Homo sapiens: one gene and its partner. The protein of the gene in region 2 purifies or fractionates together with the protein of the main gene of each other region. This does not show direct contact. Each region holds a gene or a part of one and is shown on either strand. Other genes may lie near its edges.

What was found. The genes of interacting proteins can lie anywhere in the genome.
Region 1: the proteins of SPEN (region 2) and BPGM fractionate together in Homo sapiens (co-fractionation; one large-scale study listed by BioGRID). This does not show direct contact.

The regions. Positions count from the first base shown.
Region 1 is NC_000007.14:134,670,853-134,674,352, reverse strand, and holds part of BPGM (bisphosphoglycerate mutase), read right to left. Parts: intron 1-3,500. UniProt on the Homo sapiens protein: Plays a major role in regulating hemoglobin oxygen affinity by controlling the levels of its allosteric effector 2,3-bisphosphoglycerate (2,3-BPG). Also exhibits mutase (EC 5.4.2.11) activity.
Region 2 is NC_000001.11:15,849,899-15,855,464, reverse strand, and holds part of SPEN (msx2-interacting protein), read right to left. Parts: intron 1-5,566. UniProt on the Homo sapiens protein: May serve as a nuclear matrix platform that organizes and integrates transcriptional responses. In osteoblasts, supports transcription activation: synergizes with RUNX2 to enhance FGFR2-mediated activation of the osteocalcin FGF-responsive element (OCFRE).

The DNA.
Region 1 (3,500 bases), on a different chromosome or scaffold from region 2:
AAAATGTTCCAACATTGATTGTGGTAATGGATTTACAATTTTGTGAATACACTAAAAGCCATTTAATTGTATACTTTAAATGGCGAATTGCATAGTATGTGAATTATAACGCAATAAAGATGTTAAAAAATAGTAAACAGGGCTGGGCGCAGTGGCTCATGCCTCTAATCTCAGCACTTTGGGAGGCTGAGGTGGGTGGATCACTTGAGGTCAGGAGTTCAAGACCAGCCTGGGCAACATGGTGAAACCCTGTCTCTACTAAAAATACAAAAATTAGCCAGGCGTGGTGGTGGACGCCTGTAATCCCAGCTACTTGGGAGGCTGAGGCAGGAGAATTGCTTGATCCTGGGAGGTGGAGGTTGCAGTGAACCGAGATTGTGCCATTGCACTCCAGCCTGGGTGACACAGCAAGACTCTGTCTCAATTTAAAAAAAAAAAAAAAAAAAAAAGGAAACAGATCCAGAGTGGTTAAATAAAAACCTGCTCTACTCACAGGACTATTAAGGCAGTAAAAATGGACCTTTTTAAACTACCAAATCCCCAGGATTTAAACCCTGGTCAGGTGACTTATCCATGGTTATTTCCACGACTACTGAGGAGGAGAGAGAAGAATGTTTATATGAATGCTCTGCCCTCGTGAAAGGCTGGGTCCTAAATGGACATCTGCTGATGCCATCCAGTGTTCCCACGACTGGTAAAGGGAATGAATAAGTTTGTCTGATCCCCAGCTAACACACTGCGATTATGATGGGCCATGTTTAGGGGTTGTTGTCTGTGACTTTAGAAACGAGTTCCAGGTCTTCAGCAAGGGGCTTGGGTATACATGGGATTCACTTGTTTGACCATGGCCTCAGATCTAACCGGATCCAACAGGTCCCCTGTTTAATAGCAGCACTCTCAAGTTTGGTCCCTTTTGTGTGGGACCAAATTAAAGAGCCAAATAAACAAAGGCCGCCGTAATATTTCAACTACAAAGGAAGGAGAGTTCAACAAAAATAGAAATGTTTCCAATAAATAAATAAAATCAACATTCCACTTTAATGACTACTCAAGCCATTCACACAGCAGACTAATTACTTACAAATATTTAAAATACTTAGACTGGTTAATAATCAGTCAATGAGACTTAAGTGACTAAAATTTTGTTTTATTTTATTTTATTATTATTATTTTCTTTTTGAGATGGAGTCTCGCTCTGTCGCCCAGGCTGGAGTGCAGTGGCGCGATCTCAGCTCACTGCAAGCTCCGCCTCCTGGGTTCACGCCATTCTCCTGCCTCAGCCTCCAGAGTAGTTGGGACTACAGGTGCCCGCCACCACACCCGGCTACTTTTTTGTATTTTTAGTAGAGATGGGGTTTCACCATGTTAGCCAGGATGGTCTCTATCTCCTGACCTCGTGATCTGCCCGCCTCGGCCTCCCAAAGTGCTGAGATTACAGGTGTGAGCCACCGCGCCCGGCCAACTAAAATTTTAAAACAGCAAATTAGGAAAAACCACAGTGAAGCCATTACTCATTACTCAATTTTGGCATAAGTTACATTCATCATCCTAAGAAAGTTAAGCAGGCAGAGCTCCTAAGGCCAGAATAATGCATCTGAACTATATTAAACCAAACTGAATTAGTCCTATCAGCCTTATGTATATACAGATTTCACATCTAGCAAGTGTAGTATTTTTGATCCAAGTTGTTTTGGGAAAAAATCCATGTATAAGTGAACCTATGCAGTTCAAATCCATATTGTTCCAGGGTTGGCTGAAAAGGGAAACACTGCTGAGTTCTCACCCTGTACCTACCCCTCTCCACAGTGGTGTGGAGTTAAATACAGTTGTCATTACTTAGTGGACCATATTACTAAATAATTTCTGGACCCTAGCAGCCAAACCATAATAGTGTTACTTACAGTTGAACAAACATTCACTAAATTCTTGCAATGGGCAAGGCACTGTGTTCTACAGTAGGGTGGAGAGGAGCAGGTGCAGGGTGAGAACTCAGTGGTGTTTCCCTTCACAGCTACCCTTGTCTTTAAGGGTCCACCATTGCCTTTAAGTCTGTGTTGAAGTCTTTAAGTCTGTGTTAAAGTCTTTAAGTCTGTGTTAAATACTTAAAGTCTGCCTTTAAGTATCGAATCTTCATGTAGAAGCACCTAGGAGCTAACTGCAGTCAATTTAAATAATGGGATATTTTAAGGAAGAAATAATGAAAGTTTGGGGTAATAAGTCCAGGAAGTAGCTCAAGGCCAAAATTGGGGAGAAAGTCAAACAACTTTATTTTCTGCATAGAGGAATAACTTCAGGAAGTCAAATTTGCACCTACCAACCCCCTCCCCTAAGTCACCATAGCAGGAACAGGAACCAAAGACAAACTGTTATGTACACTGTACATCTACTAAAGCACCTCCTGGTAGAGGTGCTTGTGCAAATGCTCACTTTTCCCACCAGGATTATAAATTCCTTGAGAGCAGGAACAATGTTTGATCCATTTCTGTATCACCCATGCTGTTACAACACAGTGCTTTACCCACTGCAAGATTTAGTAAATGTTTATTCAACTGTAAGTAACACTTTTATGGTTTGGCTGCTAGGGTCCAGAAATTATTCAGTAATATGATCCACTAAGTAATTACAGCTGTATTTATTATGTGAATCTACTTTTTACATATAACTAAAGGCTATAAGGAATAAAATGTTAGGCTGGGTGTGGTGGCTCATGCCCATAATCCCAGCACTTTGGGAGGCCGAGGCAGGCAATCACGAGGTCAGGAGATCGAGGCCATCCTGGCTAACACAGTGAAACCCCGTCTCTAATAAAAATACAAAAACAAAATTAGCCGGGCGTGGTGGCGGGTACCTGTAGTCCCAGCTACTTGGGAGGCTGAGGTGGGAGAATGGCGTGAACCTGGGAGGTGGAGCTTGCAGTGAGCCCAGATTGCACCACTGCACTCCAGCCTGGGCAACAGAGCGAGACTCCATCTCAAAAAAAAAAAAAAAAGAACAAAATGTTAATTTAAAAATCCTAAAACATAAAGCCTATATATGAAAACACCCTAAGGACTTTGTCAGAGGTACAGTACAGACAAATTTCAGAAAGAGGTTAAAAGCTCCACAAAAGGACCTTGTGTGTCTCATTCACATATAGGTGCTATATCCCTTGTACCATGAACAAGACCTGATTTAGTGAACCCTAGGTGCAAACCTGAATTGAATAAATTCGAACTCTCTGGGTTTTCAAATTAAATCTAGTCTTTTATTGTTGAAGCCTTGATTAAACACTGTGCTCTCCTATGACCTTACCAAGAAAAAAAAAGGAGAATTAAAAGAATCTTAGCCTTGAACAAAAAGCTGTTTACATCTAGTGCCAATAAAATAAACAATTCAAATTAAATGGCTTTAGATGTTCTTTGATTTTCTCCAAAGTGTTCAAAATCTTTGAATTTTAGAAAACCAGAAGAGATGGTCAGAGAGACAGAAAGATTCGCTACAGGATGAGAAGGAAAGAAGAA
Region 2 (5,566 bases):
ATGTTTTTTGAGTACATAAGCCCCAGTTTTTAAATCAAAGGAAAAATAAATGATGTGTAAAAAAAAAATCACTTTTAGTCAATTTTAAGAATCAAAGAAACTATAAATGTATTATATGTAAAAGTACATACGTTATGTGTAACATAATGGGAATATAACAATCAAAGTCAATACAATGTATAATTAAAAGAATCTTCATATCATTTGGCAATGTTCCCTAGTGACCCAAACAGCATCTAATACAAAGACAGGCACATGCAACCCTTGCATTTAAGGCTGGACTAAAAATCTAGCACCAGGTACACAGGATAAGAAATAGTGTTTCTCATTTGAATTTTCCCACAAATCTTCCTTAATTCTAAGGATTGGAGCAGTTCCTTAAACTATATAATACAAATCTTTAAATATGCTAGAGTTCATTTCATTTCTATACTCAAAATGAAATCATAAGTAATTAAATCCAAGAATTCACTAAATTTAAGTTAGGATTTTATAGAGCCATTCCACTATGGTTTTTTTAGATGCTTGTAATCTTCAACTTGGCAGACAGGAATACATGTAGGGAGAACAATCTGAATATTGAGATACTTTAAAATTATATCCAAAAAATCTTTTCACTCACTGCAAAGCATATTTCCACACACTAAAAACCAGCTAGATATCACATAAAAATTACATGGTTTTGGCCGGTCGCGGTGGCTCACACCTATAATCCCAGCACTTTGGGAGGCCGAGGTGGGCAGATCACCTGAGGTTAAGAGTTCGAGACCAGCCTCAACACAGAGAAACCCCGTCTCTACTAAAAACACAAAATTAGCTGGGTGTGGTGGTGCATGCCTGTAATCCCAGCTACTTGGGAGGCTGAGGCAGAATTGCTTGAACCTGGGAGGCAGAGGTCGCGGTGAGCCGAGATAGCACCATTGCACTCCAGCCTGGGCAACAGGAGCGAAACTCCGTCTCAAAAACAAACAAAAAAAAACTACATGCTTTCTAATAAAATGATTAACATTCTAATTGGTTTCCACAGAGGAGTACACTATTTTCATTCAAAATATGTGTAGCTGTAAGGCAAGTAAAAATAATAAGTTTAAAGAAAAATTTAAACCAAATAGTAAAGAAGATTGTTAATTTAACTACAGATAAATGTACTTTATTTAGTCTCCTTGTTCAGCAGGCTAATATATGTGTTTCAAGGGGCTGAACAGCACTTATTTCAAATCATCTAATAACACAATTCAGGAGCCCAATTTAATGAATATATACACTCAAGGTATTTTCAGACTACATTATTTACTCTAAATACTGTGGATGGTTAACTACAGCTCAAACTAACACTAAAAATGTTTTAAAAATAAAAGCAAGCAGGCCGGGCATGGTGGCTGGCGCCTGTAATCCCAGCACTTTGGGAGGCAGAGGCAGGCAGATCACTCGAGGTCAGGAGTTCAAGACCAGCCTGGCCAACATGGTGAAACCCCAACTCTAATAAAAATACAAAAATTAGGCCAGGCGCAGTGCCTCATGCTTGTAATCCCAGCACTTTGGGAGGCCGAGGCGCACAAATCACGAGATCAGGAGTGAGACCAGCCTGGCCGACATAGTGAAACCCCGTCTCTACTAAAAATACAAAAATTAGCCTGGTGTGGTGGCAAGTGCCTGTAATCCCAGCTACTCGGGAGGCTAAAGCGGGAGAATCACTTGAACCGGGAAGGCAGAGGTTGCAGTGAGCTGAGACCATGCCACTGCACTCCAGCCCAGCCTGGGTGACAGAGTGAGACTCCGTCTCAAAAAAAAAAAAATACAAAAATTAGCCAGACATGGTGGTGTGCGCCTATAATCCCAGCTATTCAGGAGGCTGAGGCAGGAGAATCGCTTGAACCCAGGAGGAGGAGGTTGCAGTGAGCTGAGATCAAGCCACTGCACTCCAGCCTGGGTGACAGAGCAAGACTCTACCTCAAAAAATAAAAATAAAAATAAAAATAGGCCAGCACAGTGGCTCACACCTGTAATCCCAGCACTTTGGGAGGCTAAGGCAGGTGGGTCGCCTGAGGTCAGGAGTTCAAGACCAGCCTGGCCAACACAGTGACACCCTGTCTCTACTAAAAATACAAAAATTAGCCAGGCATGGTGGCACGGGCCTGTAGTCCCAGCTACTCAGGAGGCTATGGCACAAGAAGTGCTTGAACCCAGGAGGAGGTTGCAGTGAGCCAGGATCCTGCCACTGCACTCTAGCCTGGGTGACAGAGTGAGACTCCATCTCAAAAAAATGAATAAAAATAAAAATAAAAAAATAATGAAAATAAAAATAAAAGCAAAGGCTGGGCAAGCTGGCTCATGCCTATAATCCCAGCACTCTGGGAGGCCAAGGTGGGAGGATCACTTGAGCCCAGGAGTTCAAGACCAGGGCTGGGCAACATAGGGAGACCTTCCATCCCTATAAAAAATTAGTCGAGTGTGGTGGCACATACCTGTGGTTCTAGCTACTTTGCAGGCTGAGGTGGGAGGATCACTTGAGCTTGGGAGGTCAAGGCTGCATTGAGCCGTGATCCATCTTGGGTGACTCTGTCTCAATCAATCAGTCAGTCGATTAATAAAAGCAAAGAAATATATAGTCTCCAATTGGATATGCTGGTTTTCATGGAATATTTTCAATTTTTTAAAAATTTCAGTAAAATTTCAAACTAGGGGGAAAGGGAAACTTGAAAGACTATTTGGAAAAACCTCCTACATAAATTTTCCCAAAGGATTAGTGTTTACAGGATTTAAAATGTCCCATAAATCAAGCCTGAAACCTCTTCATAAGTATACCACACAATACAATCCCAGCAATCACGAGTCTGCAACAAAGGTAGTTAGAAAAAGGTGCCCTCCACACAAGCGAAACACTATCATTCTTCCTGGCAGTGAGCCCTATATTTTCCTCCAATCTGCCAGGGGCGTTCCTTTTGGGAAATAAAACCCATTTTATTATTTTTTATTATTTTGTATAATTATTCTGTATAATTTTTCTGTATTATTCTGTATTGCTTTATAATTATTCTGTGTAATTTTTAATGTTTTAAGATAACTCTGAATTTTTTGTTTTATTTTTAAAATGTGCAAAAGCCTATCATGCAAATAGATATTGGAAATCAGAATATTCAAAACCAGAGGTGGTTTCATAGACGGGATGGGGGTGGTATGGGTGGTATGGCCATAGACAAGAAGTGGTTTCATAGAAACCTTCTGGTCTCAAATGAAGAAGCGACGTAACAATGATACAGGCTACAGTGAGTCAAATTTGTTTAAGTCTAAAAATATCCCTAGTAGTCAGGAAAAGGAAATTCAATATTTTATATTGTGTCCCAGAGGTAAAGATATCTGAATATACATAAAATGTAATAGCTATTCCATCTATTTAACTCAGGAAAACCACTGTGATCAAACATTTTAAATCAGCAAAAACAAATTACATTTTTAAATGGGTCTCATTCTTTTTTTTTCCCCAGACGGAGTCTTGCTCTGTCCCCCAGGCTAGAGTGCAGTGGCACGATCTCAGCTCACTGAAACCTCCGCCTCCCAGGTTCAAGCAATTCCCCTGCCTCAGCCTCCCAAGTAGCTGGATCTACAGATGCACACCACCACACCTGGCTAATTTTTTGTATTTTAGTAGAGACGGGGTTTTACCATGTTCACCAAGCTGGTCTTGAACTCTTGACTTCGTGACCCGCCCGCCTCGGCCTCCCAAAGTGCTGGGATTATAAGCGTGAGCCACCGCACCCAGCCTCTTTAACAATATTTTTACACGAGGGGCTACCTCAGTTTACCTCCGCATAATCTTTAACCTAGTCTCTAAAACTGGAGATGGATGGGAAGAACTAAATTCGCAACTTACTTAAAATCTGAAAAGATAAAGATGTTAAATATTTTAAGGGTTTTATTCATTTGCTCATTCTAATTCAAGGAGTCGCCTTTGCAGACACCTCTCTCCCTCTCATAACTAAAAGACAGGAACCAATTGTATAACTCCTCCCTTCCCCCTTCAACCCAGCTAACATACAAAGGAAAGGACTTTCTCTATTGTGTCCCTGTAATGAATCTTTGTTAACTAAAACCCGATTCAGAAATAGTTCTCATTTAATTTTTTTAAATCCGCAAACTGAAAACTGTAAAAATAACAACAGATTTATTATTATTGCAAGAAAAGAAAAGCCAATTTTTGTAAATGTTCTGATTATGTTTTAAGGATTTGGTCTTTCTTTGGCACTGGGGAGGAAAAAGCCAAATCGCCATCCACCCCTCAATCTACTGTCCATTTAAAAACAAACAAACAAACAAAACTAATCAGAATGTAAATTTAAAAATAAATATAAAAATTTTTAAAGAACTGACTGACCTCTTTTTTCTGTTAAAATGTCTCTAAGCTGTCCCCAAAGCTGTCTGGTTTAATCTTTTTGTAAAATGCAAACACTTACTACAAAAGCCTAATCACTGTTAAGAGAACATTCATCTTGAAAACGTTTTATATAATGTATTCCCAGTGTACACCTCTTAATCCTGTAAAACAGTTATTAATGTAATCAGCTAGGGAAAAGGATAAGAGTAGGCACTTAAAGTTCAGTTTTAATATAGGTATTGCATGGTTTTTCTCATTCTGATTTGTACAAGACACCAGAAGTGAATACCATTTCATTTTCTTGCAGAGCCATCGTTCTGGTACAACTACCTTTTTATTCCTTTCACTTAAATTATTCAGATTTCACTTTTACTCCTAGTAGCAATCACACATTTTACAAAATATATCCCACAATAGGGATAAAAGGCCTTGAGTTCCTCCAAACAAGGTCCACTTAGCTCCACAGCTGGATCAGCAGGAACATTTCTTGTACATGCAGAAAGATAAACAAGAAACCAGAAATAGACATTACCTGGATTTTGGGGGGTGAGGGGAGGAAGTGTGGCAACTGGGAATTCCAGGGTCAGGGGTGGAGATTTTTCTCTGTATACCTTTCACATGCTTTGAACCCATAAAAATGTACTGTCTATTTAAACAACTAAATAGATTTGTTTAAAAATGAAAAAAAAAAACCTTTAAAATAAAAGAATTTCAGGGACACATGATCTGCTTAGTTTTAAAATAACCTGCTTTTATCAGTAGCATCTGCTTTTACTCTGCAATAGGTAAGATACTCCTTTGAATGCAGTCGTGAGCAAACTGCCAGCTAAGCCGTTTTTAATACAGTAATGTTCCTCCAGACTGCCGCTTTCCAAGGCAGCTCGAATCCTCCGCCCCCTCCTCCCTCTGTGCATTCTGAGATCGGCTCTGCTGATTCCCACATAAAGTGGGTCCTGGCCGCCATTTTAGAAAGTCATTCACACAAGCCAGACCGCAGCACCGTCCACTAAGAACCCTTCCAAAGCTGCCTGGGACGATTTCCTCTTTCTTCTCTCTGCCCCCTCATCTTGCAGAGGGGCCAAACTCCCAGCCATAAGCATGCAATGTCTCTGGAATCTGCATAATGAGAAATGACACGTCTAGGCACATAACACTGAGGAGCGAGCGAATGCTGCAATGCACGTGCTTGTACAT